Linked DNA regions of Homo sapiens: regions 2 and 3 are each linked to region 1. The links come from fine-mapping of genetic effects on gene expression. A gene starts in region 1. Each other region holds a variant in brackets. All regions are shown on one strand. Distances are between the middles of the regions. Region 1 holds the start of DTNBP1 (dystrobrevin binding protein 1). Region 2 holds the start of LOC105374947 (a long non-coding RNA gene). Region 3 overlaps DTNBP1 (dystrobrevin binding protein 1).

Region 1 (11,348 bases):
AGGATGGTACCTTTCACATGGGGTACTGCTCATGTGACTTGCTACAGGAGAAGGCTGGGAAATCCTTTCTGGGGTTTTAGGACCTGCTTCAGGGGAGAAGGGGATGTGTGTCAGACAAAACCTGCTTCTGTGGTTTTCGCAAATGCCCAGGGTACCATATTTTGGGGTAGCATGTTCTGAACCCCATCACTGGCAACAAGAGTCTTCCAGTTCCAGAAGGCCTGGCTAAGTCTCCAGGCACAGTTGGTTCTTGGATTTCCTCTCTTTGCTGAGTAGGTATTTTTGAAAAAACAAAACAAAACAAACAAAACAACAACAACAAAACACAACCCCTGGGGAAGCCCGAGCACATCTCAGCTGCTGCCTCACTTATCCAGGCCTGGTTTAGCTTTCTCCTCTGCCCCTGCCTCACACTGTTGCCTTCAGAACCAGCCAGCAGAGATGGAGGCTACAGGGGTTTGGGTACAATAAAGTGATGGGGCTAGTGCCTGTTTGAATGAGCTGGGAAAGGTGAGGACAAACTGCAGCCTTGACTCCTGAAGTTCATGGATTCTGAAGTCATCGTTGCCTTCCCCTGCAGGGCAGCTTAAGTCTCTCTGCTTAGCTCAGTGGTTCCCAGCCCTGCCTGCATGTTAGAATCACCAGGGAAGCTTTTAAACCGCATGAAGGAGGAGACATCACCTTAGACCAGTTAAACCAGGTGCTCTGGGGGTGCTGAGGTCAGGCACTGGTATTTCTAAAATGCTCCCCATGTGATTTGAAGGTGCAGCCAGGCTTGAAAACTATTACTTAACTGCAATTATAATCATCAATTATTTTAACTACTAATGATCAATTATTACGGCTCCCCCACCAGCATGTATTGACCTGATAGTTAGCTCTAAGTAATCATTGTCTCAAACTTTTTTTTTTTGGCCACTAATTCTTATTAAAGAGTTTCAGTTTGTTATTAAGTTTTCCCACACAAATATATTTCTATGGCACAGTAGTTCAGAAGATGTGATTTCTGAGATGTATTCTCTCTGGGGGAACCATCTATTTGTAAGAGTACAGGACGTGGTTTCCTTTACTCATGTAGAGTCCCTACGCTTTGATGAATGGAGTCACTTGGTCGTTTATGGATATCTTATAGACCATATAGATCCAACCATAGAATAACAAAAAATAAAAGTTTTCCTCCTGTAATGTATCTTTATAGATTATATAGATCTAAACACATATTAACAAAAAATAAACGTTTTCCTCCTTTAATGCAACAGTGTAGTGCCTTCTTTTTTCATCTGAGCAAAAAGATAAGGTTAGGTGCCCAGTCATTTTATGACAGTGGGATACAATTTTGGAACACAAATAGATGCAGCTGAGATCCTTTTACTGTTCTTTCCGTTCAGCTCAGGTAAAATACTCATTTCCAACCTTGCTGTCACTCCCGACAGTGCTTGCCGTCTAGATCTATTATTATAGCTTCTGTCTTCCGACCTTGATATTCTCTAACTACCCCCTTCTCTCCTGTTCTTCAGCTGCGTTCTAATCTTTACTCTCTGAGGTTGGAACTCTCCTCCTTCACCTCCCTGATTTCTGTCTCTGCTTTTCTTTTCAAAATGCTGTGCTGATATCACCTTTCCAGCTTTATCTAGCTTACCTCATTCTTAAAAATACTCATTGCTTCACGAGAAACATTTACAGCTTTTACATGGATTCTTCTGTAACCATTAAACTCTTAAAAATTAAAGATATCAAAAATATTTACATGTTGGCTTTTTAAAAACATCACAAATAATAACAACACACTGTAAATATCTTTACAAATCTAAGTCAGGTTCCTGCAAAGCAATTAACCATAGTCCCTTTCCAATTACTCTAAAAGAGCTCTGCCAATGAAATGGTATGAACTTTTCTGGGTTCTACAGCCCCTTCTTTTTTTTCCTGCTTTTTTTTTATTATTATTATACTTTAAGTTTTAGGGTACATGTGCCAAGTTGGTGTGCTGCACCCATTAACTCGTCATTTAACATTAGGTATATCTCCTAATGCTATCCCTCCCGCCTCCCTCCACCCCACAACAGGCCCCAGTGTATGATGTTCCCCTTCCTGTGTCCATGTGTTCTCACTGTTCAATTCCCACCAATGAGTGAGAACATGCGGTGTTTGGTTTTTTGTCCTTGCGATAGTTTGCCGAGAATAATGGTTTCCAGCTTCATCCATGTCCCTACAAAGGACATGAACTCATCATTTTTTTCACTGCATAGTATTCCATGGTGTATATGTGCCACGTTTTCTTAATCCAGTCTATCATTGTTGGACATTTGGGTTGGTTCCAAGTCTTTGCTATTGCGAATAGTGCCACAATAAACATATGTGTTCATGTGTCTTTATAGCAGCATGATTTACAGTCCTTTGGGTATATACCCAGTAATGGGATGGCTGGGTCAAATGGTATTTCTAGTTCTAGATCCCTGAGGAATCGCCACACTGACTTCCACAATGGTTGAACTAGTTTACAGTCCCACCAACAGTGTAAAAGTGTTCCTATTTCTCCACATTCTCTCCAGCACCTGTTGTTTCCTGACTTTTTAGTGATCGCCATTCTAACTGGTGTGAGATGGTATCTCATTGTGGTTTTGATTTGCATTTCTCTGATGGTCAGCGATGATGAGCATTTTTTCATGTGTCTTTTGGCTGCATAAATGTCTTCTTTTGAGAAGTGTCTGTTCACATCCTTTGCCCACTTGTTGATGGGGTTGTTTTTTTCTTGTAAATTTGTTTGAGTTCATTGTAGATTCTGGATATTAGCCCTTTGTCCGATGAGTAGATTGCAAAAATTTTCTCCCATTCTGTAGGTTGCCTGTTCGCTCTGATGGTGGTTTCTTTCGTACCACCCCTTCTTTAATAGCATCTTTCTCTTTGGTTCTAACTCCGCCAAATCCTCATTTATCACTTTGTCTCCAATAAGAATCTGCTGAGACAGGAAACCCCCTTTCATCAACGAGTAGGGCTTCTCAAATGTTAACATGAATAAAAATCACCCGGGGGGTCTTAATAAAACTCAGATTCTGATTCAGTAGGGCTGGCTGGGGCCTACGATTCTACCTTTGCAGGAAGCTCCCAGATGATGCGGCTGCTGCTGGTCAGGGAAGCACTATTTCAGGAAACTTCTTAGCAGCTTTGGTGCTCACCCCAAACGTTGTATCACCAAAGCTTTTCCTGGGCGCAACTAATATGCTCTCAAAAAATCAACTCTCTGCTGGGCGCGGTGGCTCATGCCTGTAATCCCAGCATTTTGGGAGGCCAAGGCAGGCGGATCACTTGAGGTCAGGAGTTTGAGACCAGCCTGTCCAACATAGTGAAACCTTGTCTCTACTAAAAATACAAAAATTAGCTGGGCGTGGTGGCGGAAGCCTGTAATCCCAGCTACCCAGGAGGCTGAGGCAGGAGAATCACTTGAACCCAGGAGGTGGAGGCTACAGTGAGCCAAGATTGCACCACTGCACTCCAGCCTAGGTGACAGAGGGAGACTCCGTCTTAAAACAAAACAAACAAAAAAACCCCAAACAAACAACAATCAACTCTCAACCAATTCCTGAATTAAGATTAGGTCAATAGCTTCCATACTGATGTTGGTTCTCAAACTGTACTTAAAAGCTTTGTTTTTTTTTTCATTTTGCCAATCCATCTTCCTAGTTTCTGGCTGATTACTGTTACTTATGTAAACACGACATGTCACATGCTTCAACTCTTGGTCCTTAATCATTCCTCCTGAGCAACTCATGTACAACAGTAGTTATTTTCTAATTTTTTTAATATTTACTTCTTTAAATCATAAATTATCTTTTTATTAGCACTTTTAAAACTTTCACTGTTTTTTAATTTAATAGATATGATGGAATTAAGAATGTTCAGAAAGCACCTCAAATACAAACATGCCATAGACTAATAAACAGTGCATTGGTCAAGACAGAAATGATCAGGCACAACCAGTAAAGCTATTTTTTAGTGACAGGCAAGAGTCTTTTTTGAGTGGATTTGGTGCTTTGTTGGAATGTATGAAACTTAGTAAATTGAAAGCTTATGTGTAGAGTTTAATTGAATAAAAGAAAAAAATTTAATATTTCCCAGTACTTGTGGTTTTCAAATCTACTAGATACTAAGGGACCTGTCTGTAGATTTGATCATTTGATCACTTGCTTTGTTCCAGGCACTGTTTCTGAGAGGTAGAAGAAGGCTCAATAAACAGCACTCCTCTTTCTTACTTGTCTGAGCAAACTGAGAAATAAAACAATAGTGTCAGCATAAAGAGGCCAAAATATCACTTTTATATCTAGGAAGACTGATGGAACACATGGCTTATATTCATGGGCAAGCAGAACTTCTAGTACCCAGTCACAAAAAGCACTGGGTTGCCCTTCAAGCCTGTCTTTAGGCAGCAGAATGAATGCTCTTTGTTGGAAGTGTTCACTCAACAAAAAGAAAAGAAGATGAGACCAAGCTCCTTACTTCTAGCTCACTAATCATCGTAGTCACCTCTTCCCCACCAGGAGAGGCTGGGTACTTCTTTATGTTAGCAGAAGAGCTCCCTTCCCATGGAAGAAAACATCAAGAGTGGGGAAGAGGTGGTCCCCCAGCTACAAGCTAAGTCCTTTATCTTATTTAACTCCTGCAACAAGACATTTACTGGGTGTCTGTTATGTGCCATTCACTGTTTTCATTGCTGGGGATGCAAAGCTTAATAAGACAGAGCAGTTTACATCTGGGCCTGTACTTGTGCTACTTACCTCACTGGCCTCATCCAATCCCAGCCCTAACAGATCCTGTGTATTTAAAATTTTGATATTTTGTTCATCACAGATTTTTTTTCATTAATTTTGAATTTTTTAAATATTGTATTAAAATATTACTTATCTTGATTACTGAGCTTTTTGGCTCCCGTAAATTTTGTACCTGAGGTGAATGCCTTATTTGTCGTGGTTTTAAAATATGTTTGTAAACAACTAAATTAATAAATAGCAAATAATTATTGAATAAATTTTCTAATGTGTACTAAGTTGAGAAACAGGCTACGTGATAGGAAGTGATTGGGTGTGTAACTTGAATGGTAAGTAAAACCTATCTAATGTGATGCTATTTAGGATGTGACCCTTATGTTATAAGGAGCCAGACAAGGGACAGTTTGGAGAAAAGTTTGTGAAAACACCACAGGTGGAAATAAACCTGGAATTTTCTAAGAACACACCAAAAAAAAAAAAAAAAAAAAGGCTATTATGTCTTAATTGTCAAGGACATGATAGGTGACTAGTAATCAATTTGGATACAGTGCTAGAAAACATTCAAATTTTAGGGCTTTTTAAGGGGGTAAGTAGTTTGAATTTTATTCCAAGTGCCCAGGAGGCAATTGGAAGATTTTAAGCAGGGGAGCAACGTGATCCGATTGATCTTTTAAATAACTCTTTCTGGCTGCTGTGTCAAGGATGGATTATAGGGGTGTGTATGGCAAAAGAGTAGAATCTGGAAGAACTGTCTGTGTTCCCATTGAAAGAGGATGGTGCCTTCGACCAGGATAAATATAGTGAAGATATAGAAAGAGAAGGAGGTTCCAGAAATACTTCAGGAGTAGAGTTGATTGGATTTGATGGGTTAATATGGGGAATGAGGAAAAGAGGGGAACCAGAGGTGATTTCAAGTGTCTTACCTTGAGCAAATTGGTGGATGGTGGTGTCATTTACTGAAACGGAAAATACAGGATGAGCAGATTAAAGGTGAACATGCAATGAATGAAATTTTCAATTTTGTGTATGTTGGTCTGAGATGCCTTTTGGATACATGTTGTATACATGCTTACATGAGTAAGCAACTGGTATGAATTGACGGAGAGGGAGGAAGGACAGGGCAGAAGATAGAGCTGTGGGAGTCATCGGTTCCTTGACAGAATTTACAGCGTGGTAATGGATAGACTCTATGCTATCCATCTATGGAACAACACATCTGGAGAAGAGAGAAGAGCTGGGGAGGCTGGACTGTAGCCTTGGGAGTGGCTATTAAAATAGGAGAAGGGGTGGAGCGGAAGGGAGAGAGGAACTATGGAGTGCTTAGCAAGAGAAGAAAGTGTTTTAAGGATGGGGATGATAAACTGCATTGAAAGCCACTGAGAGGTGGAGAAAAAATCAGGGCAGAGAAGTAATAAAAGGCATCAGCAACATGGAAGTCACTGGTGACTCGCGAAAGGCGATCACCTTTGGTGTGTAGGGCACAAAAGCCTGGGGGGGTAAAGAGAGAGTGGAAAGTAAGAATGTCGAGACAGTCGACTATTATTGCCATTTTATGAATGAAGAAACCGAGGCTCAATATTTGACTGTCTCATTCAAGGTGAAAGCCAGTGGGGTCAGATCCTGGACCTAGAATCCATGCAATGATTTGTGCACATCGCCTATTGAAGAGAGAGATCCAATTCTCTTCCAAAACGTAAAAGCCAACACTTCCCTCAAAGGAGGCTTCGAGTTAAATCATCCTTTCACGATGCCGCTTCCATTTTAAAGAAAAAAAAAAAAAAACGAGAAGGCCTGGTGCGGGATAGGAATGAGCCGAGGAGCTACTGGCCCTCTCGGTCGGGGGAAGACCCGCCCCTTTTCCGCAGCCCGAGCCCGGCGCAGTCCACTGCGGCTGCGCGAGCCTGGCGCGCGCGGGGCGGGAACGCGGAAGGGGCTGGGGTTGCGGCGCGGCGGCGAGGACCAGACCGGGGGCGGGGCCGGTAGTGGGAGTGCGGGGCGCGCGGTGACAGCGCGGGGTTGGCGGCGTGGGACCCAGGGGGCGACAGAGGCAGCAGCAGCCCGAGGCCTGAGGAGAGGAGACCGGCGGCGGCGGCAATGCTGGAGACCCTTCGCGAGCGGCTGCTGAGCGTGCAGCAGGATTTCACCTCCGGGTGGGTATACGGTGGGCGACGAAAAGGGACCTGAGGGGGCCGGGCCGCCGCCTGGGATGCCCCTGCCTCGCTCCCTTCCCCGCGCCACGGTCCAGGGTCCGTCCTGTCCCGCACCTCCCCGCCCCGCCCCGCCGAGGAAAGTAACGAACTTCCCGGCGTCCTCGCGTCGGGCGGCGCAAAGTAACTTAGGTCCCTGCGGGCCGCCTGTGACGCGCACCCCCCAGGACCGGGAGGCGCTCGGCGGCGCAGCGGAGCGCCCGGGGGGGGTGTGGGACCCTGCGGTCCTTTCCCGGCAGCATCAGCTGGGCCCTGGAGGGAAGTCATGTGAGAAGCCAGCGCGCCTCACCGCTTCCGCCCCCGCGGCACAGTGGCCTGCGCCCCTCGGCCCAGCAGACACCTGCTCGTGCGCACCTGGAGCTGGGCCAGCCACCCTCCCCGAGTCGGATCGCACCGCGCAGCAGCCTGCACCCTCCGGCCACAGCCTTCCGCGCCGCGTCTCGGCTTTCACGCCCGGCTCGCCGGCCTAACCCTTGGCAAGGCTGGCCGCCCCTCCCCGTTGCGTCCTTTCTCTACCTTTGCCGTGAGCTCAGCGCCTCGGCGAAGGAACTCCTAAGCAGGAGAAGCGACAGAACTTTAGGAATGCTTTTAATACCCAGCGGTTCCCAAACTTTGCTTAGAATCACCTGGGAACCTTTCAGAGTTCTGATGCCCAGGTCTCACCCCCTACCTGTTGACCAGAGTGCCTGGAGACGGCGTTTTAAAGATCCCCAGGGGATTCCAGTGGGCACCAACGCCTGGGAACCACAGGCCGAGACTCTGGCGCCAGATTGCCTAGGCATCCTGGCTCGACCACTAAATCAAACGTAGTTACTCAGCTGCCTTGCCTCAATGTACTGTTTCCGCTACCGTAAAATGGGGATAATGATGGTACTTAAAAGGTTATTACAAGGATTAATGAATTAATGTGTAAAACACGAAGCAAGCATCATGTCAGTATTGTTACTTAGTGCTTAATTTTAATTTTTTCATTCCTTTAAAGTGAAAAAGATCTGTCTTTGAAAAGGATCTTTCAACTTTAGCTTACAAATCCTGTTGGAGGATGCACTGAATGTGAGAACATTTCCACTCATACTGTTTTAAATTTCTCCCCCCCACCCCCCTTTTTTTTGAGATGGAGTCTTGCTCTGTCACCCAGACTGGAGTGCAGTGGCGTGATCTCGGCTCACTGCAACCGCCGCCTCCCGGATTCAAGCGATTCTCCTGGCTCCACCTCCTGAGTAGCTGGGACTAGAGGCGCCCGGCTTATTTTTGTATTTTTTAGTAGAGACGGGTTTCACCATATTGGCCAGGCTGGTCTCGAACTCCTGACCTTGTGATCCTCCCGCCTTGGCCTCCCAAAGTGCTGGGATTACAGGCGTGTGCCACCGTTCCCGGCCCACCCTCCCCCCCTTTTTTTTAAAGTGACAAGTTCTCGCTCTGTTGCCCAGGCTGGAGCGCAGTGGCGCTATTATAGCTCGCTGCAGCCTCCAACTCCTGGGTACAAGAGATCCTCCCTCCTAGGCTTCCTGAAGTGGTGGGATTATGGGTATTAGTCACTGCGCCCAGCCTCGTTTTAAATTTCTAATGAGAAAGATGTTAGCCAAAATTTTATCTTAATGGACAAAAATGTTAATACTATTTGCACATTGGGCGTTGAATAACAAACTGTCAAACGCTTGAGCACTTACCATGCGTCAATCATTTTTGTTAGTTTGGTGTTTAGAAAGTTATGGACGCTCGGAGTCATTCACTGATGGGTGTGCTTGCGTGCTTGCATTTTGTTCTCCCTATTTAGTAAAAGTACCTTCTTTTCAGAGCGTAAATTATTGTATTGAAAACTTTTTGGTGTGATGCTGAAATGGCCCATTTGTAGCATGAGAGTGGCCATTATTCTCCTGTTAGTACTTCATGGAATTCCTTGATGGCACAAGAGCCCATCTTGTAGTTACTATAACTCTAGGTCACATGGTTGCCTCAGAAGCATTCATGCTCCTGACCTTTGTAAGAAGGCATTTTACCCCGGAATGTAGATTCTGGAGTGGGCTCTGGACTGCTGGGGCACAAACCATCCTGGGAGATCAGGGTAACCCTAAACGTTTAGAGTTAGTTAAGGAGAGACATGCCAAAGGGATCTAGTTAGAACCCCTTGGAAACTGACTTGACTTCTTAAAGATGCCGTAGTCTGGGGCCATTTTGGAGCTAGACATCCTGAGAGGGCTTCATTAGGTCTTTTGTTGGCTTTCTCCTGTACAGGTCACTTTCAGCTGACAAACCACTGGACTGTCAGTGTGTGCCATTAGCCTGTCACCTGGTGGAGAAACAACTCATCTCCAAGTGATGTCAGTCTCCCAGTAGACCCGGACCTCTAGTGCCTGATGTTCACTTTCTTCAGGTCCTCAATTTCCTACATTTAAGCTGTTCGGTTAAACTTTTCCATATTCAGCTTGAGATCAACCTCCTTTACATAACTGATTATTTTTGCCTTGAGGAGAAAAGATGACGCTAAACACAGCACACATGTGTTTATTATATGTTGGTAATGTGGAATTCAAAGATGAAAGAGACGTGAGCTGCATCACTAAAAAAGAAACATATTACATAAATGCAATGCTGATATCATAGATAATAAAATTAACACTAATTTTTTGATATTATCAATTATGCAGTCCATAATCAGATTTGTTTTGTGCTTAGAAATGACTTTTTACAGTTGGTTTGTTCAAATCCAGATCAGATAAGTTTCACACATTAAATCTGTTTAAAAACCAATTTTTAAAACAGACGACTGTTAAAGGGCCACATGGGGAAGCTTTATGGAATCTTCCAACAATTTTGTTGTCCCAGCTACTTGGGAGGCTGAGGCAGGAGGATCCCTTGAGCCCAGGAGTTCAAGACTGGGCAACACAAAGAAACCCCATCTTTTGGCTGGGTGCGGTGGCTCACACCTGTAATCCCAGCACTTTGGGAGCCCGAAGCAGGCGGATCATGAGGTCAGGAGTTCAAGACCAGCTTGGCCAACGTGGTGAAACCCCGTCTCCACTAAAAAATACAAAAATTAGCTGGCCATGGTGGCGTGCGTCTGTAATTCCAGCTACTTGGAAGGCTGAGGCAGAAGAATCTCTTGAATCCAGGAGGTGGAGGTTGCAGTGAGCCGAGATCACACCACTGCACTCCAGACTGGGTGACAGAGGGAGACTCCGTCTCAAAAAAAAAAAAAAAGAAAGAAACCCCATCTCTTAAAAAAGAAAGAAAAAATGAAAAAACATGGCCCTGGCCACCCAGAGCTATCACATTGGACCTGGCGTTTCTGTAGAACACTTGGTGGCAGAGCAATTGTGTGGAAGCCAGAGCAGCTGCCTTCTAAAATAATTGGAAACACCGGGTGTGCAGGCTGCCCCAGGGATGGAATGGAAGGCCTCAGGCATTTCTGGGCTCCTTCAGTGCAGCCAGTGCAGCTCCCGCTGTCGCCCAGAGCAGCATCCTCTCTTCGGAGCTTCTGTGATCATTTTCACTTTCTGAAAACTCATATGAAGGCCCTAACTCTAGATAAATTTACTTTTTTTCATTTTTAGTAAAATAGAACGATTCCTTATCAGTCTCAGAATGTCACTTTGGTGATGAAACCATGTCCAATAAGAATAAATTTCTACATTCCATTCAAACTTTGAAAAAGTGCAGCTTAAGACCATTGTTCTTTAAGGGCAGTGTAGAGATTACTGGTGGTTTGGGGGGAGCTCTAGGTTGTCCATGGACTTATGGCCTTTTTTGTAAATTTTTATGCGTAGTAACAATTATGTCAACCTTGAGAAAAACTAGTGATTACATCACATTCTTCCTGCCTTAATTGGGTGGTGGGCCAGCCTTAGGCCACAGACTGAAGAGGATTGGTTCTGAGCTTCACTCAAAGATCTTTTCCCCTCACCTAAAGTGAGTTGTAATTTGATTTAACTGAGTCAGAATTCTTGGAGCCTTTTGGAGAGTTCACATAAAATATCCATTTTTACAGAGATTGGCTTGAGCTCTGGGGAAGACTTTTGGACATACCAAAGTACATACTTCGAAGCCACTCTGGTCTTTGACTTTTACCTTTTGAGCTGTTACGACCAAAGGCCTCAGGATTGAGGTATTTAGGCATGCAAACCCTTCAGGGAACTGAAAATCAGATTTACTGACGGGTTTACAGCTGCCTGTCACAGGCTGGTGTTTCCTATTTGTGATGCACTGGGTTCCTGTGGTTGGGGATAAAAAAACCTGCTATTGTTGCAGCTAGAGGGTGTTTCCCCCTCAAAGCCCTCACTGCCCCTGCCGCCCACCTGCACCCCTGCCCAGTGTCCTCATTCTGTCTTCTTCCGTCCTTGTAGTATCTACCAAAACCTACACAAAGGGGGTTGGAGCCAGT
Region 2 (8,701 bases), 140 kb after region 1:
CGTGTCTTTGTTCAGGAGGGTAATTTGGCCTTGGTGACTCCTCGTTATGACTGTTCCATTCCAGGTTTTACATTAACTCACACACTCACACGTCTCTTTGCTTAACATGCTTTCTTGCACTCAGCCCTTCCTTCACTATGCCTCTAGCGAGAGCAGGCTCATAATGACGTGTTTCTTCTTGGTCTCTGCTTTTCTCCTGGATCTTAAACGATACCTAATGTTACACCATTTTAGAGATGACATTTCTCTCTCCTCTTTGAACTTACTCCGCAGTCTTCTGGCTTTTATTATTGTTGTTCATGAGTTGCCTGTCATCCTAATTATTTCCTTCTCTTTCTTAGCCTGCCCTCTCTCTCTGGCTGCCTTTTAGAGAGCCTTTGTCTTTTGATGTTCTTCAACTTCAAAGCAATTGGTGTAGGTGAAGATTGCTTTGATCTTGCTTGGAATGTTTTGCTTTTTAAATCTGGGTCCTGAGGTCTTTCATCGATTTGGGAAACTCATCAGCTTCTTTGAATAGAGTTATCTCCCCTTCTTGGCTTCGGGGAAATGTGACCAGATGCTACGCTTCTGCATCTTTCGTACCTTTTATGCTCTCTTGTATTTCCTTTCTTTGTTCTTCTATGCTGCATTATGGCAGATTTACTCATCCTGCCTTCTAGTTTATTAATTTTCTATTGGGCTGTGACTGTGCCCCGAGTTTGAGATTTCAGTCTCTTCTACCTAGTCATTATTTGGCTTTCAAATGTCTGTCCTTATTTTTGACACCTTGTTTTTGACTTCACCTTTCCTGTGACTGTGGTGTATGAACAGCCATCTCATATTCTTCAGCGAGGATGATGTTTGTTTCTGCTGCCCTTCACTCGGAGTGGCTCATTTCATGTGTGTTACAAATGCCAGATTGGGTTGGGATTGACTTTGTTTAAACCAAGGTTAAGGGAGAGTCCTTCCAGAAATAATTTGCATTTGCTTCTGCCAGGCATTCCCCATGGCTAGGATAACTTACGTGGCTTGTGGTTTTCTGGACCATAGAGGTCGTTTGCCTATGAGTAAAGACCTGTGGGGCATCCCGTGCTCAGTGCCCGGGCAGAGGCCAACTAGGCATGTGCTGTTTCATGGGGTCGCCGTCTGCTGGTGGGCTGGGTTTTGTTTTCTCCTAGTCTGTGCTTCCACTGCAGGGAGCTCTTACAGCTTACAGATGTAGGTCAAACCCCTTCTGCCGTTAGGCCCGAGAAATGTTCCAAGGCCAGTGGAAACTCCACTTGCAATTAGAGGAGTGCGCCTGCCGGGAAGGTTCAGGGCACCTGTAGGCAGGAAGCAGAGCTGTGGCTGGCAGGGAGGAAGGTCGCTAACTGTTGCTGCAGGAATGTTGGCCTCTTTGAGACAGGCTGAGCGTCCTACTCAAAACAGCCGGGACTCACTTAATGCAGAGATTAGTCTTCAGCGTCCCAAAGGGCTGGGGATGAACAGATTAAGGAAGTGTAAAAGGTAATAATAGTTGCCAAGGGTGATTTAGGATGCATTTAAAGTGCCAGACTGGCATATGTCATCTACTAATACGTTGCTTCAAATTCCATTTTGAAGGAAGCTTAGGAAATGCAATGTAGTTAGCCTAATGCCAATGGAAGTTCACCTTTTAAAGTAATATTAAAGACAGCGTGTCCTTTCTCGTGTTGATCTATCCGCAGAGCCCATAGGCAGCATGTCATCCATGGAAGTGAACGTGGACATGCTGGAGCAGATGGACCTGATGGACATATCGGACCAGGAGGCCCTGGACGTCTTCCTGAACTCTGGAGGAGAAGAGAACACTGTGCTGTCCCCCGCCTTAGGTAGGGTTGACAAACTTGCATTAGCTGAACCAGGGCAGTATCGATGCCACTCCCCTCCAAAGGTGAGACGTGAGAACCATCTGCCAGTCACTTACGCATAAACCCCCAAGCTCACAGCCAGCTCCTGGCTCCCTAACCCCACGGTTCCACACGGCTGTGTGGCAGCTGCAACAGTGGTGTGGTTCCGTCATGAATTCTTCTCAAAGATTTGACATGCTCCACTCCGGTAACTTTGGTGAGTTGAGAGCTTTCTTGTTTGTTTTCCCTCCTTTACCACCCAGAAATCCATTTGAGTCTGCTCCTTGTGGTTAAGGACTGGCGTTTGCAGGGAGGTGCGGACTCTCCTGCGGGGCTCACGGGAAACTCTTCCCTCTTCGTGCGACAGGCATTTAGGGGCGTGCCTGCCATGGGCAAAGCCATGGTGTGTGTTCAGCTCTTGGCCTGTGTTGTAAACTTAGTTGCACTTCAGTTCCTTTCATCCCTTCACAAAATTTTGTTTCACATTCATGCAGCAAATATGGGCTGAGGTGCCAGACCTGTACCTGGGCTTGGTGCGTTTCAAATTTCAGACCAGTTCTTTGGGCTGGGTCAAGGCAAAGCTCAGTCGTCCCAGCAGCACCTCAGCCATCTGTAGAAGGTTCTACCATTACCACGGTTTCAGCTTCCTCTAAACTTCTCACCCGCTTCTCCTGGCAATCTGTCAGAACGGTGTCATCCTGGGGAAGAGAAGGAGCTTGGGTGCATTTGCCCTCATCCTGAGAAGGCCAGAATACTGGAGACCAGCGTGAACCCTCACCCAGAGTCAGGGGAAGATTTAGAAACAGTGACACCTGCATATAGAATTTTGATTCCTTGAAGAGCCTATTTAGTTCCATAAAATTGGAGAACTGCTGAAGGTCAGTAATTCCGACTTTCTCAGCAGTGGTGTCTCTGAATTACTGCAAAGGGTAAAAAAAAAAAAAAGAAATCTAGATTATCAAGGTTACAAGGACTGCTCCTCAAAGATAGGCAGCACTTGCCTTTGGGCCTCTATTACACGCGTATTACAGCCTTAGGAGCACTTGATCTGTGTCACATGTGGCTGACTCCTTAGGGGACAGAAGGGTCACCGCAGGGCCTGAGGCTGCCTCTGGCATCGCTCAGCTCAGTGTCTTCCAGGGCAGTTCCCAAGTTCTGCAGGCCCCAGGTGCCTGGAACAAAAACCACACCCCCCTTTCATGACGGGCACATTCCACAGCTGTTGGCGGCAATTCTGATTCACAATATTTTTATGACAGGGCTTTTTCTTCCCTACGTTATTTTGCAGGGCCTGAATCCAGTACCTGTCAGAATGAGATTACCCTCCAGGTTCCAAATCCCTCAGAATTAAGAGCCAAGCCACCTTCTTCTTCCTCCACCTGCACCGACTCGGCCACCCGGGACATCAGTGAGGGTGGGGAGTCCCCCGTTGTTCAGTCCGATGAGGAGGAAGTTCAGGTGGACACTGCCCTGGCCACATCACACACTGACAGAGAGGCCACTCCGGATGGTGGTGAGGACAGCGACTCTTAAATTGGGACATGGGCGTTGTCTGGCCACACTGGAATCCAGTTTTGGCTGTATGCGGAATTCCACCTGGAAAGCCAGGTTGTTTTATAGAGGTTCTTGATTTTTAC[A/G]TAATTGCCAATAATGTGTGAGAAACTTAAAGAACAGCTAACAATAAAGTGTGAGGACGGTAAACTGAGAGCGCACAGAGCTAGTTTGTACACAAAGGCTTCTAAATACACATGTCCTTAAGGCCACTGTAACTCAGGGTTCCTTAGAGTGAAGGGACGTGCAGGTCATTGAGGGCCACCCCGGGAGGTTGCATGTGGGCAGGGCCTGGGCCAGGTGGTGGAGGCTCCACAGGGCTGAGTTCTGCATGAGGCAGGGAATGACCTACCGTTTCACAAGTGGAAAATGCCACTTCCTGTAGAAGAGCTGACTGTAGCCAAACCACTCTGGCAAAGCTTGGGGTTTTCCGTTGATCATTACAGAAGTAAGTAAGTATCATTAGTCCAGTAGCCAGCCAGTCCAACCCCTACTTTTTCACACTCCTGGGCCCAAAAGAACAGAAACAAGCCCAAAGCAATCCTCCATTCTTTATGAAAAGAAACTGGTCCCCTGGAGATGTGTTCCTGCCATCACTCCTCCAGCCCAATGAGAGAGAGGGGACAGACTCCCCGCCGGGATGAGGGGGTCTGTCTGTCTGCAGCCATACCACCCTGAATGCACCCAGTGTCGTCTCATCATGAAAGCAAGCTCAGCAGGGGGGCGCAGCTCGATGGGAAATGAGGGGGACGGCCGCAGGCCACATGGAAACCATTAGGTTAGGCTGAAGGGGACCCAGTGGCAGGTGGGAGCAGGACTGCAGTGTGGGGGGTGGCTCTGCTCCCTGGCTGGGGGGAATCCTCTGCCCCCTGCCCGTGGACGAGAAAAGAAAGAGCTCATTCCATTCAGTCATCTTCCACAAGACAGACAAATGTCCAAAAAACTTTGTTTTTATTATTAAACCTTGTAGTACAAACCTGAAAAGTAAACAAAAAACTCGCAATAAACCACATGAAGTCTCCCTCCCAAGGGAGGGGTGCAGAGCAGCGCTAATAAATTAAATGTCAAACTGTAAGCCATAGGCAGAAGTTTACTGTCAAAAAGAGGGAAAGTACACAGCAAGGCCATAGAAACCGGACAACCACATTGGAAAACACTTGACTGTTTCTGTAATTGTTAAATATTCCAAAACAGTTCAGTCTTCTGCAACAACAACCAACAAAGTGGATCATAGGACGTTCCTGGCAGTCACCACTGGCAAGCTCAGTGCAATATGGGTAGCTACGGGATTGATGAATCCAATTATGAAACAAAGAACAGCTTGTGAAAACAGTTTCCCTTTTTTATTCCACACATACTGTACACACAACCGGAGAAGGGCAACAGCTACTCCATTATTATTTTTTTGTTGTTGTTCAGTGATGTAAGCAGCACTTATAAATGTTACAAGAAAAACCCTGTAAGCATCCAATCCAACCGATGAAGAAACTGAAATGTAAGGCTTTTCTTCATCTTGTCTTCTCACCCCCCTCCCCACCCCCCACCGAGAAAAAGGCTCAAGTATTTAAAACAATTTACAGGCATATGTACAAAAGGGATGGGATTTTTTTTTCTTTTTTCCTTTTTGTTACAACATGAAGAGAAAAAATAGACAAGATGAACGCAAATGCATTTTCACATTCAAAAATAACTGCAGGCCTCCTAGTGGCTCTCTACATGATCATAAATGAAACAAGTTTTAAAAGAAAGATTAATGCTGACTTGTGAAGGTGTCAAACAAGAAGCGGTGAGATGGAGATGGAATGTTAGAAAGATTGCACGTCGATGACAAAGAAGCACTTACGGCTTCCATCACTTTTTTTTCCTTTTTTTTTTTTTTTTTTTTAAATCTTAAGGATGCTATTGAAGGGTTTTTTGATAAAGTAGCCAACAGCACCAAAAAATAACAGAATGGATTTCCTAATGAAATCAGGCACAGGTCTCCCTCATGTGACCCCTCCAAGGCAGGCAGTCTTTTCCGTCTTCCTCGCTCGCTTTTCTTCTTTCCTGGAACAGATGCATAGTGATGTGCTGGTGGAGAGCCCACTCGCTCCCGTCTCCTCGTTCCACCTATGGTTAGGAAACAACGTCCGCCTTCAGCTGCCACAACCGCCCAGAGAAACAAAACGGGGGTGCCCCGGCTTCCCAGATCACAAGCTCATCTGGCACACGGCAGAAGACGACAGCCAAAGCAAAGCCATTTCAAGTTTCGTGTGTGTGTGTGTGTGCGCGTGTGTCTCCTATCCCTTCTAAAAAATCTGCTCACATGACTGATGGTTTTTAAATTTGTTCTCCAAACTTCACCCTCTTCAAAAATGGGTTAAAAAGCCTTTTTCCCCCCAACAGTTACAAAAAAAAAAAAATCAAAACCAAAAAAAAAGGCTTTTGTCAGCCATGGGGCAATACAAATTAATACAGCCCCTCCGGGGTTTTTAAAACAGTGACTATACGGCAGTTTCCAAAATCTGACTGCAGTATCTAGGTTTTCTAAGTACAAAAAAAAGTTCAACAGTTTAATGCTAAAACAAAATTAGTTCTCTAAAACCAGAAGAAAATCTTCTTTAGAGCTAGTGCAAAGACAGCTTGAATCCTACAGCAAGTACTCCAAACTAGAATATAATAATTACAAAAAAATATATATAAATCGACCACGGGCGTTGGCATCTTCATGATGAGCTCGAAGCACTTTTGGATGAACTGGAGGCTGACAGACGGGAGGGGGGCACGTCCACTGTCGCTCTCTTGCGGGGACCTCTTTTTGGTGTGGGTTTACTGAGACAGTTCTCAATGCTGCCGTTTTTACCAGACACTTTGCCGCAGATCTGATTGACCAGACTGATAATCTGTTCCTGTTTGGGGGTGAAAGGAAGACACAGTTAACATACCGTATTAACAAGAGCTCTGTCCCTGAGAGCCATGCAGGGGCAAGTTTAGGGCAGAGGGCAGCGGTCCCCTTCACCACACCAACCAACAGGTTTTAAAATAACCCCGAGAGGCTCAGATGCAGTGAGTCTCCCTTTCCCAGCTCCTCCTGATGCCACATAGCAGGCATGGCCGTTTCATCCTCATCAACACCCTGGTCCACCATGCTTTGCCTGCTCATAAGGGCAGGGCTGGCAGGGGAGCCCAGAGCACTGCCTCTACCACGGAGCACTCAGCAAAGAGACCCAGGGGCTTTGTTACATCCTGGATGGTGACACAAATACCCAAGCTACTTGACTCACTTTAGCTACCGGCCACTGAACCTGGCCATGCAAGTAAATGCAAACACTTCTCAACCTATACATATCCTTGTAATTCACTCAAGAGAATCATTTATCTGTCGGCACCAAAAACTGTGTTTGTAACTTTCACACAGTACATCCTATAATCATATCATTTTTAAAAACAACATGGGGAGGAGTAGCAAACGTGCATCTTATGAGCATCTCTCTGGGCCACGGGTGGCTGGGAACCATGCTGACCCTGGCAGGAGAGGAAGCCAGCCATGGAATGAAACATCTGAGGGCCTGATCTCTAGTCCTCTGAAAAGCCCTCAAGATGAGGGTGAGAAAGTGACAGCTGGCTCCCATCACAAGTTAAAGGTGCCTTCGGAAGGCGGGGCGGTCCACACGTATCTGTAATAACACCATAGTCATGGCTGCTTGAGGTACTGATGATAAACACTGATAAAGGATAAGTGGATGAGCTGCCATAAAACCCATTTAGGCGGCTACTGCTACCTTACCATAAGGACAAGTGAGGAGGAGCGGCAGTGTGCGGTTACAGGAGGACACCGTTCCCTCCCCTGCGTGCAGCTCGACAGGTGGGCAGCACCTGCCCCAGACCAGTGCTCTCACACTAGGCTCGGCGGCAGGCGGCCCAACACCCTGCTCAGCCAGCCTGCAAGGGCCAGAGACACAAATGGCTCCAAACTCCCCAGAGAGCTTCACCATCCATGAGAACCCAAGCCATGAATTCAGGGATTTGCAATCTAGGTGCACCCCCCACCCCAGCAAGGGTGGGTGTTTAAAGCAGACTGTCCCGGGTCAGCAGGCCCAGACATGGGTGATTTGTGTACTGGGCACACTGGGAGGTTGAGAAGATTTTGCAATGGTCTCTGTTTACAAGGTAGAAATTTCCTATTTAAAAGAATGGGCCAGGTGTGGTGGCTCACGCCTGTAATCCCAGCACTTTGGGAGGCTGAAGCAAGCTGATCACCTGAGGTCAGGAGTTTGAGACCAGCCTGACCAACATGGTAAAACCCTGTCTCTACTAAAAAGAAAAATTAGCCGGGTGCGTAGTGGCGGGCACCTGTAATCCCAGCTACTCCAGAAACTGAAGCAGGAGAATGGCGTGAACCTGGGAGGCGGAGCTTGCAGTGGGCCGAGATCACGCCACTGCACTCCAGCCTGGCGACAGAGCGAGACTCCGTCTTAAAAACAAAAAAATGCACAGCTCAACAGGGGACAGAGGCACAGACATGCTTACTGAACTACTCAGCCACTACAGAGTATGCAGTTTCCAAATACCTTTGCTCCTAATTCATCAAAACCAACCATTAGGTCTCAGACAGCCCCTGAATGCCATTCTTTTCCCAGGATCTGGTCACGTCACACATCCGACTACAGAAACAGGCTGCTGGTGAGAGGTACAACCCATGATTCACAGAGCGCTTTCCAGGCAGCCAGAGGAAGCCTCCCCGTGCCGCCGCCTGCACCCCCACAAGGTGCCAGAGCCATGCTCGTGCTCAGCCGCAAAGGCTTCGTTATTTGCAACTGTGCCTGGACATTTGCTGCTAAGGTGAAGGAGGGACACAGCAGGTGCTTACTGCCTTCACCCAGCATGCTCTTTGAAACAAAACAGATGCAAAGAGTTCTTCTTCCAGCTCTCCGATCATTTAGCTCAAGGCTTATCCAGTGAGACCCACCACTTGGCCCCACTGCCTGGGCCCCCAGACACACCAGGCCCCTCACAGTCATACCCGCAGCACCCACCCCACTCAGTGGCCTCAAATGTGCAATGACCACAATGTGGCGACCTTCCTCGTAACCAGCCTCATCAGAGTCTGTGGGAAGCACACGTGGGGAAGGCGGGCAGAGCAGGGGAGAGGCACTGCTGCCAGGAGTTCCGCCACTCAGAGCGGCCCCCAGCTGCACAGGCTGTGTGTTGTTATGACCCCCCTCTCCAGAAGAGCGTGGCACCTGCAGGAAGGCACCGGGATTTCACATCATGGGGCCCGTCCTGCCCCAGTGTCCGCAGACACTTCCAGCTCTCTCAGCCTG
Region 3 (8,000 bases), 82 kb after region 1:
TTTCCTTTGCTGCTTTCCTTTGAAATGTTTATTTCCATGCCTGGATACATTGCTGTATTTGCATGGTATGCAGATGATATATTATTAAAAAGCAGAAATTAAATTTCAACTTGACTTGAACCTACAAGTAGTACATTTTTATGAGAGCATTATTAGTTCTTTCTATTACCAACAAGTAATAATTACTAAATTAATACCTAAAATAAGTTTAAAATGTTGCATGGAAATGTAGGACTTTTTTTTTTTTTTACAATATGTGTCTTTTCATGCATCAGGTGAAATTAATCAAACTGACATTTTTTATGAAGCAATATTTGTATTAAAAGATAAATATAAAATACCAGGAAAATAATACTAGCTATTTGAATAATGAGGCTGGTACAGCTCCATAAAACTAATTCGGCATCCCTTGCTGCTAGTATGTTCATTTTCCAAGAGGCAGTTAATAGAGTTAAATATGTGAGCCATATCCAAAGATAGTATAAAGTTAAAATTCATTCTATGGTACTATATGGATTTATCTAAAATGGCTGATTTTCAATATGGATTTTGAAAAATGTCATAATGCTTCATACAGGTTGAATATATATATATATATATATATATATATATATATATATATATATATATTCTTTTCATAATTTCATATAACTTCAGTGTATTCCTTATCTGTTAGCCAGAGGCTGTGGTTTTAATGACATCTCTGTGTGGTATTTATATATATATATAAATACATATATAAGGATATTGAAGTTGTGGAACTTACTGCAAAAAATACCTGAAAAATTAACTGTGCATTTTTTGTTGAGTAATTTATTGTACTATCCATGGGGGTGGTAACTGAGGAATAATTTTTAATAGTGATTGCATTTTTTAAAACTCCCTGTTATTTCTTTTAGTTGGCATACGTTATGGCATGTTATATACATCATGCCTTGTCAGGTAGAAGCCACTTCTCTGTAAATGAAAAAAAAAAAAAAAAAAAAAAAGAAATACATGTTGTCTCTCATCTATCAAGGTTATTCTCTTTTTAATATTACAAATTTGAATAAGGTATATCAAACTTAAGAGAAAAGTTCCTTCTTTGTGTCCCTCTCTCACGCCTGTGTATGTATAACATAGCAAAACCTTTCAAGCTTAGATAGACATATTAACAGAAGTAAAATGATAGCTCAGGAATTCATTATAAAATTGGAGCATTAATGGAATCAAATTCTAACTAGAGGTTTTACCACATTCTTATTCATTATTAAGTGTTCAGGAAAAAACTTATCAGTGAGAACTTTGGCATTTATTTTTAAAGTATTTACTTATAGGGAATGTATGATAAATGACATATTTTCTCTTCTCTCAGTCATTATCTTAAATAATGGTTCTAAGAGTAAAGATCTGCATATAGGTATAATCTGATATTCAATTTTAATATTTTAGATCATTCATCTAAGAAATTGCTCCTTGAAAATCATGATTTGTTGGTAAATACTGGCAAGATTTTTGAGGTGTCTGCTCATCTTTTTCTCATATGTCAATATATGTTAAGTGTATATTCGTTTTTTTAAAAGCTGGCTTATATTTATGTAACAGTGTTTAAATAAAGTTAGTATCTATATCCTGTAATACCAAAATATTTATATCCTGTTTGTTAATTTTGGCTCTAAGACAGTTTATTTCTAAGACGGAGTTGATTGTTTATTCTAATACCATGTCTTAAGTTGTCATACTGGGCATGACCTGAAATTCTCTAAGACGATGTTCTATATTGAAGGGGAATTGGCACTTTAACAGCTTGTTTAGGTATTAAACTACATAAAAATAGAGCATCAAGATTAGGGTTGTGATGCTTAAATGTTACTTTTCTGGGATTTCTTGTAATGATCATATACCACCATTGTATGATCAATAATTATAGCAATAGAGTATTTTAGAAGTGAATCAGGACAACGTTTTGTTGTCTATCATAAATGTTTGGTATCATGAATAAATACAGCTATTCTGTTTCATTACCTTTTTGCTGGAACATGGTATAACTTGACAGCAAAAATTATACCTTTCAGAAAACTAAATTTTAAAACCACAAAAAGAAATCTTTGAAAATTTTAGCTGTCAGCCTTAACAAGAGACTTTGTCTGTTGAATTCATATGGAGCTTCATGATTTTGTCTTAGCTTTTTAGAGGTGTGTGCTGGAAAATAACCTGTGGGATCTTGTAGCTCTGCTGATTAAACTGTTGAAGGCAACTGGGATGGAGTTTGTACTTTTCTCAGAAGATTGGTAGTTGCCTAATGGTTTTTATAAACTTCTAGAGTAGGGGAGAAGTCAAGTGGCCAACTGAGCTGAGAAACTCTCACTCCTACTTAAATATTCATCTGGCTTTCCCTGTAAAGGTATGCCTATAGCATAAATATAAGTATATGGGTGGGAGCAGTGGCTCACACCTGTAATCCCAGCACTTTGGAAGGCCGAGGCAGGAGGATCGCTTGAGACCAGGAGTTTGACACCAGCCCAGGGTAACATAATGAGACCCCCGCTCTACAAAAAAATTTAAAAATTAGCCGGGCATGGTGGCATGCACCTGTAACCCTACCTACTTGAGAGGCTGAGGTGGAAGGATCACTTGAGGCTCAGGAGTTTGAGGCTGCAGTGAGCTATGATGGCACCACTGCATTCCAGCCTGGGCAACAGAGCAAGACCCTGTCTCTAAAATAAAATAAAATGAATCAGCATTTGAAATTTGGCTAATTTGTTTTTATTTGAGAAGGAAAATGGTGTTTACCCTAAGATAGGGGAAATAACTAAAGAAGCATTGGAATAATATTGAACTATTTAATATCCCTTTGTATTCTTAAGAATCATTTAAAGTGTTGTATAAAAGAGTAGCATAGGATACTTAATAATATGCTATTCACTTTCAAGTCTCTAATTCCAGTTTTGAAAACCTATGAAATAAATACTATGGTAGATAAAATGGAATTGAACAGTCAGAAACTTACTACATGAAGATGACTCATCAGTTCTAATTATGTTTATTTTTAACTGAAAATAAAAGTATATGTAATAAGAATTATCGTAGTAATTGCAATGATGTGATCAAAAAATAAATAACCACCAGGATTTTTTTCTTTCATTTAGTAAAATTAATGTGGCACAGAATATCAGTCATACCATTATAGGTATATAAGTATAATTCTGTTTATTTCTATTAAAACTCTAATAAATTAGTGAAAAGAAACTACTTATTAGGCATGTACATGTGTTAGCTCTGTACTTTGCATTTCATAGTTAGTACCACAGTATCTCAAGTAGTATCAAAACAACCCTGTGAGATGAGAAAATTGAGACTTAGAGAGTTAAACAAGTCACCCAGCTAGTAAGCATTTCAGCAGGGATTTAAACC[C/G]AGGAACGTCTGCCCTCAAAACCTGTGTTTTTCTCACTTCACCACAGTCATTCCTGGGACGTGCTAAAATGTAAACAATAGAATTTAGACAAGTTTTGAGTTTCCATAGTGTTCAGTGTTCTTTAGGTATTGCATTTATATCCAGTCCCTTTCCCCCATTCTCTTTCTATACCGCAAACTTTGAATAGCTAAGTAGCATATTGAGATTTCATCTTTAACTGTATTTGAACTGCTTCCTGGTCTTGCTGTGTAATGCTCCTTTAATACAGGGCTATTCTAAGAATAAAACCCAGTGTTTAAAAAAAAAAGATGCTGATTTATGCTGCAGAACCCTGGAAAGATTCCTCTGAATTTGAGATGTGGGTTGAAGCTCAGGGCAGGATTAGAAGAAAGACTAGTAAGGCCTCTAGCTCCCCTCTGCACACTGTGTCCCCCTTGGACAGGAAATATTTGACCATTCTTAAAGTCAAATCTTCTCTATTGCAGATGCTGATTTCTGCGTAACAGTTTTAAAAGAATTTCTGCCTGGGCGCGATGGCTCATGCCTGTAATCCCAACACTTTTGGGGGGCCAAGGCAGGTGGATCACCTGAGGTCAGGAGTTCAAGAACAGCCTGGCCAACATGGTGAAACCCTGTATCTACTAAAAATACAAAAATTAGCTAGGCGTGTTATGCTCCTGTAGTCTTAGCTACTCTGGAGGCTGAGACAGGAGAAGTGCTTGAACCTGGGAGGCAGAGGTTGCAGTGAGCCAAGATCTCACCACTGCACTCCAGCCTGGGTGACAGAGCGAGACTCCATCTCAAAAAAAAAAAAAAAAAAAACAGTCGGGCGCGGTGGCTCATGCCTGTAATCCCAGCGCTTTGAGAGGCCCAGGCGGGTGGATCACGAGGTCAGGAGTTCAAGACCAGCCTGACCAAGATGGTGAAACCCTGTCTCTACTAAAAATACAGAAATTAGCCAGGCGTGGTGGCAGGTGCCTGTAATCCCAGCTACTCGGAAGGCTGAGGCAGGAGAATTGCTTGAACCTGGGTGGCAGAGGTTGCAGAGAGCCGAGATGGAGCCACTGCCCTCCAGCCTAGGCCACAGAGTGAGACTCCGTCTAAAAAAAGAAAACAGAAAAAGAATTTCTGGCAGTCTCCCCTTTTCTACTTCTTTCTAGCCATTGTATCTTAGAAAAACTTTGAAGTCCTGTCATCCAACACCTCGTCCCATGTAGAGTCCGTTTATGAGCAGTCCTGAAGGTGTTTACGTGGTGTGTTGACAGTTCACACTCTCTACCAACCTTCTAAGGCTTCAGAGTTGTAGTTCCTTGACCTTTTCTTTTCGTGGTAGCTGATTGTAGATGCTTTATTCTCCTGGTCATTCTTGTCTAGACCCATGCTAGTTTTCCAATACCCCATATAAAAATGGTGTTTGTACCTGCACAGTCTTCTAGAAACGGTGACTGTGACTATAGCTTTTTAGTCACCTTTTCTGCCAGTCAGCTCATGTTTAACTACAATGCCCAGATCTTTTTAACATGAAAGTGCCCCTAGTCTTTATTTTTAAAATAACTGTAAAAGCAATGCATCCCCATTGAAGACAGGAAAATTTAAAAAGCTTCTGGGAAAAAAATTGAATCACTAGTCTGCAATAGCCTCAAACATTTTTGAGGTTTATATACACACACACATATATAGACATATCATCCAAAATTGGAATAGCATACAAACAATTTTGTTTCCTGTTTTTTCCCCTTATGAAATGAGCATTGCCTCATGTCATTAACATACTGTTTTCCTATTGTTGGAAATTTAGGTAGTTGCCAGTTTTATGCTAAGCATAACTTGTGCTGTAATAAGCATCTCTATACGTACATAGATAGGGCCACAATTTTTTACAGCCTAAGTGTATTACATTTTTTAAGGCTCTTGGTGTGTATTCATCGTTAGCTTTTTAGAAGGGTTGTTCCAGTTTATACTTTCATTAGCAATGTCTGTGACTTTATCTATTTCATAGACCCTCACCTGAGTATTTTTTTCTTGTCTTTACTAATATGAAAGCAAAAATAAAATTTGATTATTGTTTGAGGTGTGACGGGAGGTAAAATGTGATTTATCGGCTTTTTATTGTTGTTATGAACTGTTTTTGCTTCTGGCTGCTTTCAGTTGCAGTTTTAGTGTACTTGTAGATTTGAATGAAGGGGTTACATATTAAGGGTTTCAAATTGTCATATTTATTGCAGATATTTATCTTCAACTAATTATTTGCCTTTTAATTTTGCGTGGTTATTACACACAGAAGTGTAATATTTTTTATTCAAATGAATTGTTTTGCTTTTATTATTTTAAATGGACACATAATTGTACATATTTGTGTGGTACACTGTAAAGTTTTGATACATATATGTAATGTGTAATGAGTAAATCAGGATAATTAGCATATCTATCACCTCAAACATTTCTTTGCATTGAGAACATTCAAAATTCACTCTTTTCTTTTTTTCTTTTTTTGAGAGGGAGTCTCACTCTGTCGGCCAGGCTGGAGTAGTGCAGTGGCACGATCTCAGCTCACCACAACCTCCGCCTCCCAGGTTCAAGTGATTCTCCTGCCTTAGCCTCCCAAATAGCTGGGATTACAGGCGCCTGCCACCATGCCCAGCTAATTTTTGTATTTTTAGTAGAGACAGGGTTTCACCATGTTGGCCAGGCTGGTCTCAAACTCCTAACCTCAGATGATCTGCCCGCCTTGGCCTTCAAAGTGCTGGAATTACAGGCGTCAGCCACCGTACCTGGCCAAAATCCACTTTTATAGCTATTTGAAAATATACAATAAATTGTTATAGTCACCCTACAGTGCTATAGAACACAGGAACTTGTTCCTCCTCTCTGTAATTTTGTATTTGTTAACCAACATCTGGTTAACTCTCCGTTCCCAGCCTCTAGTAACCACTATTCTAGTCTCTACTTCTATGCAGTCAAGTTTTTTAGCTTCCATATATGAGTGAGAATATGCAATACTTGTCTTTCTATGCCTGGCTTGTTTCACTTAATGTTTTACAGGCTCATCCATGTTGCTGAAAATGATAGGATTTTGTTCTTTTTTATGGCTGAATAATACTCCATTGTGTATACATACCACATTTTCTTTATCCATTCATCTGTCGATAGACATTTAGTTGATTCCATATCTTGGCTTTTGTAAATAGTGCTGCAAGAAACATGAGAGTGCAGCTATCTAATCAAAATACTGATTTTCTTTTCTTTGGTAAATATCCAGTAGTGGGATTGCTGAATCGTGGTAATTCTATTTTTAGTTTTTTGGGGGCACCTCCATACTGTTTTCCATAACAACTGAGATAATTTACAGTCTGACCAACAGTGTCTAAGAGTTTCCCTTTCTCCACATCCTCACCAACACTTACCCTTTGTCTTTTTGATAATGGCCATTCTGACTGTAGGAGATGATACCTCACTGTGGTTTTGATTTGCATTTCCCTGATGGTTAGTGATGTTGAGCATTTTTTTCACATACCTTTTGGGCATCAAATGAATATTTTTAATGATACCTTCCATTGCTTTTCTGCATGGAAGATTCTCTCCCAATCCTAAGAAATAAATATTAGCTTGTTATTTCTTCCAGTTTTTATTATAGTTTACTTATTACTTTAACTCTACTTAATCTAGAACTTATTTTGATTTACAGCATGAAATGACCACTCAATATTTTGCCATATAAGTCATTAATTTTTTTAGTACTATGCAATAATTCCTTACTTTTCTCTCCCTCTGTTGCTGGAAAAAATGTAATTGGTTAAATTCCATCCTGCCTGCATGGTGTATGCCCCCGAGCAGCTGAATGTAGCTAGAAGAAAACATAACATCCTTTCCTGAGTTCTCACTTCAGATGTTGTCCACAATTCACTAGAAAGCCTTCATCCAGGCTGGCAATCCTAGTACATTCCCCTCTGCGCACTAGGAGAATGCTCTTTTCTCAAACTGGGACATCCCCTCCCTGATCCCATTCCTCATTGCTTTCCTCTGATTTCACTGAGGAACTGGAAGCAGTCAGAAGAGAAGGGCTCTGTGCTCCCTGCACTAACACCCCCTCCTCCCAGCGTCGGCTTACTCTGGCTTCCTCGCTGGCACCGTGGGGACTGTCCCTGCTTCCACAGCAAGCCCCTCAGTGTAGGCGCTGGACTCCTTCCTTCTCTCCTGCCTAAGGGCTTTGCTCTGGCAGCGTTGTCCTCTCTCTTCTGCACCATCAGTGCTCACCTCTCTGCAGAATCGTCTGGCAGTTGTTCGTACTGTCCACATACTTCACTATTCTTTTCCTTAATCCCTTTTGCCTGTAAAAGTAAACACATGACTAATAAAACTGACATTACCACCCAAATTATGTTGGCTACAATATCTTGGAAAACTACACTTGGAGAACTACACTTCAGGATTCAGTCCAAGCTCTTTACCTTCCCACCGGAGATGTTGAAGTGCCTCTGGGGTTAATCCTTGGGCCTTTTCTCTCCTGCATTCTTATTCAGTCCCAAGGCTTTAAATACCACCCAATGCTATTGGCTCCAATCCTGGCCTCACCCCTAAATTCTAGACTGGTTTATCCAGCTCTCCG

What was found.
Region 2: its variant is fine-mapped to the expression of DTNBP1 in caudate (GTEx, PIP above 0.99). The same link has a PIP of 0.9 or more in anterior cingulate cortex, cerebellar hemisphere, cerebral cortex, hypothalamus, nucleus accumbens and prefrontal cortex.
Region 3: its variant is fine-mapped to the expression of DTNBP1 in whole blood (TOPMed, PIP above 0.99).

What each region holds. Positions count from the first base shown.
Region 1 is chr6:15,658,376-15,669,723 of GRCh38, reverse strand. DTNBP1 (dystrobrevin binding protein 1) reads left to right here and starts at 6,696. Exons shown (of 10, transcript NM_032122.5): 1 at 6,696-6,910. The coding sequence starts at 6,855. RefSeq lists a silencer at 6,700-7,209 and an enhancer at 7,440-7,489.
Region 2 is chr6:15,517,654-15,526,354 of GRCh38, reverse strand. It overlaps JARID2 (jumonji and AT-rich interaction domain containing 2), which reads right to left. Exons shown (of 18, transcript NM_004973.4): 18 at 4,313-6,286. The coding sequence ends at 6,104. It overlaps DTNBP1 (dystrobrevin binding protein 1), which reads left to right. Exons shown (of 10, transcript NM_032122.5): 9 at 1,686-1,829; 10 at 3,136-3,548. The coding sequence ends at 3,380. LOC105374947 (a long non-coding RNA gene) reads right to left here and starts at 21. Exons shown (of 4, transcript XR_007059475.1): 1 at 1-21. RefSeq lists a silencer at 3,135-3,321 and an enhancer at 8,528-8,701. The variant A/G (reference allele first, on the strand shown) is at 3,485.
Region 3 is chr6:15,577,695-15,585,694 of GRCh38, reverse strand. The region is part of intron 7 of DTNBP1 (dystrobrevin binding protein 1); the gene reads left to right. Among named protein-coding and RNA genes, the nearest start is that of DTNBP1-AS1, 36 kb to the right of the region's middle. RefSeq lists a silencer at 2,211-2,411. The variant C/G (reference allele first, on the strand shown) is at 3,394.